Regions from separate parts of the Homo sapiens genome. Here region 2 is linked to region 1. A link means that fine-mapping ties the variant in region 1 to the expression of a gene that starts in the linked region. Tissue or cell type: blood mononuclear cells. Region 1 holds a variant in brackets; the other region holds the start of a gene. All regions are shown on one strand. Distances are between the middles of the regions.

Evidence for each region. PIP is the estimated chance that this variant, and not a neighbour inherited with it, causes the effect.
Region 2: CPOX starts here. The variant in region 1 is fine-mapped to the expression of CPOX in blood mononuclear cells (TOPMed, PIP above 0.99).

Annotation. Positions count from the first base shown.
Region 1 is chr3:98,558,328-98,561,016 of GRCh38, reverse strand. No RefSeq gene overlaps it. Among named protein-coding and RNA genes, the nearest start is that of GPR15, 28 kb to the right of the region's middle. The variant T/C (reference allele first, on the strand shown) is at 1,374.
Region 2 is chr3:98,591,990-98,594,678 of GRCh38, reverse strand. It overlaps CPOX (coproporphyrinogen oxidase), which reads left to right and starts at 1,068. Exons shown (of 7, transcript NM_000097.7): 1 at 1,068-1,730. The coding sequence starts at 1,175. RefSeq lists an enhancer at 530-579 and a silencer at 1,080-1,529.

The DNA of each region.
Region 1 (2,689 bases):
TTGGAATTGGATCTTCCAGCCCCAGTCAGACTTTGAGATGACTGCAGTCTCTGTCAACACATTGACTACAACCCCATGAAACAGCCACTCAACTAAATTGCTCTCCAATAACTGAGACACAGAAACTCTATGAGATAATGATGTCTATTATGACTTTAAACTTTAAAGTTTTGGGGTAATTTTTAAGCACAGGAGTAGATAACTAATAGACAAACAATGTCACAATGATCATCCACGTCTACTTATTTTTGTGAGAATATAAAAAGTCTGTAAAACAAATTCTTAGGAATAGAATTGAAAATAGTTGAAAAGAGTGTGAATTTTAAATTTCACTTAATAATATGCAATTTAATTTAACAGTGTCCCACAGTGAATGAGTGGGCTTCTCCATACCTACCCTCAACATTGAAGCTCACACTATAATTTTGCCATTTTATAACTTTTAAAAAAGTTTTTTTTTTTCCAACTTGGACTTAGTTATGCAGGAGGTTGAGCATTTATAAAATATTCATTGACAATTTATATTTATATTTCTGTTAACTGCCAATTTATATCTTAACTCGCTTTATATTGAATTGATCTTTTTGCTATTAGAGCTTTTTGTATAATAAGAAAATTAGCCCTTTTTTATAAGTATGCATGTTTTTCCCCATTTTGAAATTTTTATTGTAACATAGTTTATACATCTTTTTAGGGCAGAAAATGTTTACTTTTTGTAGTAAAATGTATCTTTTATTTTTTCATCAATTTTTATTTTAAGTTCTGGGGTACATGTGCAGGATATACAGGTTTGTTACATAGGTAAATGCGTGCCATGGTGGTTTGCTGCACAGATCAACCTATCACCTAAGTGTTAAGCCCAACATCTATTAGTTATTATTCCTGATGCTCTCCCTCCCCCTGCTCCCATGACACACCCCAACATGTGTTGTTGCCCACCGTGTGTCCATGTGTCCTCATCATTTGGCTCCCACTTATAAGTGAGAACATGCAGTGCCTGGTTTTCTGTTCCTGCATTAGTTTGCTGAGGATAACAGCTTCCAGCTCCATCCATGTCCCTGCAAATGATATGATCTTGTTCCTTTTTATGGCTGCGTAGTATTCCATGGTGTATATGTATCACATTTTCTTTATCCAGTCTATCATTGATGGGCATTTGGGTTAATTCCATGTCTTTGCTATTGGGAATACTGCTGCAATAAACACATGCATGCATGTATCTTTAAAATAGAATGATTTATTTTCCTTTGGGTATATACCCAGTAGTGGGATTGCTGGGTCAAATGGTATTTCTGCTTCTAGATGTTTGAGGAATTGCCACACTGTCTTCCACATGGTTGAAATAATTTACATTCCCACTGACAGTGTAAAAG[T/C]GTTCCCTTTTCTCAGCAACCTCACCAGCATCTGTTGTTTCTTGATGTTGTAGTAATTGCTATTCTGACTTGCATGAAATTGTGTCTCATTATGGTTTTGATTTGCATTTCTCTAATATAGGTGATATTGAGCTTTTATTCATATGTTTGTTGGCTGCATGAATGTCTTCTTTTGAGAAGTGTCTATTCGTGTCCTTTGCCCACCTTTAAAAGGAGTTGTTTTTTTCTTATAAATTTGTTTAAGTTCCTTGTTGACTCTGGATATTAGACCTTTGCCCATCAGATAGATTGCAAAAATTTTCTCCCATTCTGTAGGTTGTCTGTTCACTCTAATGATAATTTCTTTTGCTGTGCAGAAGCTCTTTAGTTCAATTAGATCCCATTTGTCAATTTTTGCTTTTGTTGCAATTGCTTTTGGTGTTTTCATCATGAAATCTTTGCCTGTGCTTATGTCCTGAATGGTATTGCCTAGATTTTCTTCTAAGGTTTTTATTGTTTTGGGTTTTACATTTGAGTCTTTAATCCATCTTGAGTTTTAGTTTTGTAGAAGGTACAAGGAAGGGATCCAGTTTCAATTTTCTGCATATGGCTAGCCAGTTCTCCCAGCACCATTTATTAAATAGAGACCCTTTTCCCATTGCTTGTCTTTGTCAGGTTTGTCGACGATCAGATGGTTGTAGGTGTGCAGTCTTATTTCTGAGTTCTCTATTCTGTTCCATTGGTCTATGTGTTTGTGTAAAATGTATCTTTTAGAAAAAGATTTTAGGTTTTATAAAGCTTTCCCTACCACACTGGGAATTGTTCAAAGGAAAACTCCCATATTATCTTCTGAGTTAATAAGATACTAGTTTTTTCCTACCAGTAGCAATGACTACAAAATTGGCTCTCAAAACAACAACAAAAAGCTCTGAATTGTAGTATTTGCCAATTTCCAAAGTGTAAATACTCCCATCATGTCCAATTTCAAGCTGCCCATGTGACTTCGCTGAACACAGAGTTAGGAAAAGATGTGCACAGTTGGCTCTTGCCAGCTGATATATGCCAACTCTAGCACATCACTGCACCAGAAATGTATTTTGACATAAGGGTTGAGAGAGATCCAGCTTCTTATTTTGTTCTTTTTTTCCAAACAGCTGAAGTGAATGCTGAAGTACATATAGGACTATAAATCTGATTAAAATAGCTATGCTTTTATTCCAACACAAATTTATGTCAATTATGTTCTTACCTAATATGTGATGTATATATATGTAAGCTTTGACTTCAAGGTAGGGTTTTTGAACACATGTACACAAGGAGGGGAACAACACACACTG
Region 2 (2,689 bases), 34 kb before region 1:
TTAAACGTGAGCAATATTTGGGAGCACCCTACAGTAGTAGAATAACTATTTTTTAAATTCTTATTTGTTAATCACCAAAACACACCAAGTCAGGAATTTTCTACTGGTTAACCAAAACAGTCACGTTGCTTTTCCTTTTTCTAAAATAATCAAGTAGGCACTATAGAAGCAAGGCCTGGGGAAACCTTTTTTTTTTTTTTTTTTTTCTGAGACAGAGTCTCACTCTGTCACCCAGGCTGGAGTGCAGTGGTGCGATCTCGGCTCACTACAACCTCTGCCTCCCGGGTTCAAGCGATTCTCCTGCCTCAGCCTCCCGAGTAGCTGAGCCTACAGGTGCACGCCGCCACGCCCGGCTATTTTTTTGTAGTTTTAGTAGAGACAGGGTTTCACCATGTTGGCTGGTCTCGAACTCCTGACCTCATGTGATCCAACCGCCTCGGCTTTCCAAAATGCTAGCATTACAGGCTTGAGCCACCGCGCCCGGCCCCAGCCTGGGGAAATCTTAAGGACAGAACTGTGATGTGGACTCGATCACAGAAAGTCTTCTCCTCGACTCTCTTCCGAGTCCATTACTAGCTTCTCCCACTCTCTTTAGAAAACCATCCTTCAGCAAAGAGTTTCCCAGCCTGCCCATCCCCTCTAAAAACTCTAGAGGACCAGGACCCAGGGCGAAGGGCGGGTCTATACAGATCCTGAGCCAGGCTCTGTATTCGCAAATCCTGTTTGAAAATGTAAGCGGGACTGGGATCTCTGCCACATTTCCGCCCCAGTCCGCCCTCAGCCTCCCAGCCCTACTCTATCTTCTCTCCTTGGCTGAGTAAACAGCCGACCCGAGGTTGTACGTGACAAGAAAGCCTCTTTTATCTCTCCCGTCCCTTCCACAGCACCGTCCCCGCCCCACTCTCTTCCCTTCGGACCAGCCCTTCTGGGCGCGTCGGATTCTTATCTCCCGCCCCGCGCAGGGACGCCGCAGGCGGCGATAGGATCCGGACTACAGCTCCCAGCGCGCCCCAGTTCCCGCCCCCGCCTCCGGAGCCCGACGCTGCAGCGGCTCTTCTCGAAAGGTTCTTTCCGCCTGTGCAGCTCGCCGGCTCAATACTCCGGGGGTCTGGGTGGGGGGCTCAAACGCAGGGCTCTGGGACGCAGGCACTGCTCCAGGTGATAGTGCGGGAACATGGCCTTGCAGCTGGGCAGGCTGAGCTCGGGCCCCTGCTGGCTCGTGGCGCGGGGCGGCTGCGGAGGGCCCCGCGCCTGGTCCCAGTGCGGCGGCGGAGGGCTCCGAGCCTGGTCCCAGCGCAGCGCAGCCGGACGCGTCTGCCGGCCCCCTGGCCCGGCTGGCACGGAGCAGAGCCGCGGGCTGGGGCACGGCTCGACGTCGAGAGGCGGCCCCTGGGTGGGGACAGGGCTGGCCGCGGCGCTGGCGGGGTTGGTGGGGCTGGCCACCGCCGCCTTCGGGCATGTGCAGCGGGCGGAGATGTTGCCTAAGACCTCGGGGACGCGGGCCACTTCGCTGGGGAGGCCGGAGGAGGAGGAGGATGAGCTGGCCCACCGCTGCAGCAGCTTCATGGCCCCGCCTGTGACCGACCTGGGCGAGCTGCGAAGGAGGCCGGGCGACATGAAGACCAAGATGGAGCTGCTGATTCTGGAGACCCAGGCCCAGGTGTGCCAGGCTCTGGCACAGGTAGACGGGGGCGCCAACTTTTCTGTGGACCGGTGGGAGAGGAAGGAAGGTAAGGAGGCCGGCCCCTGGCGGGAGTTGGAGACAGGGAAAAAGGGTCAGGTTCCAGGTTGCAGACAGAAAATATAATAGTTCACAATATGGGATGGGGTAGGTAGGGGGTACCCACAGAGAGGCCGCTTGGTTAGAGGCCGCTGATAAAAAGATGGACACGAAAGGGTCACTAGCCCTCTGCTTGCAGGTATGGACCCGGATCAGCTGTCACTGTAGTACTGCATTTCAAAATCTTTGCAATTCCGTAGCAGCATTTTTTTGTAGAACTCTTAAGGGGTATTTGCAGCTAACAAGCTTAGATGTCCAAAGTTCGTTACTGAACATAAATTTCAATAGATTATGGAACACATTTTCTCTCCTTCTCTGGGTGAATTTGCCCTTTTTCCTCTTTAGGAGATGGAAAGAACTCATCTCCTGTGCGCTAAGTGTCGGCTAAACTCCTCCAGCCAGGATGTCATTGTGTCAGAATCTTCCCACTTCTTTTTACTGTTACACAAGATATATTTGATTCGTTTCTCAGTAGCACTACCAAATGCACGCATCAGATTTCCTGCTAGGAAAATCTTCTCTTCCAATATCAAAATACTTGAGCATCAAAACCCAGTTCTCGTAGAGGCGTACATTCATGACCATGTTGTTGCCCATACAGTGAAACCCCACATCTTGAGTGGAAACTTGAAAGATTCCTGACTTTTCCTAGCTGGAAATACAACAGCAGCTTCTCACCGGCAGATTTTGAGCTGTGATACTGACACATCTATATTAAATGAAGTTCAGTCTAGTTTTCCATCTTATGTTTTCAAGCAAAGACCACTGAACCAGGACACAACCTCAAGTACTAGACCAGCTGTGTGATCCTCAGAAGTTACTTTTTTATGGCTGTTTTCCCATCTATGAAATATATATGTATTTCATCTCTTTTAATCCTCATACTACATATATATATATATATATCCA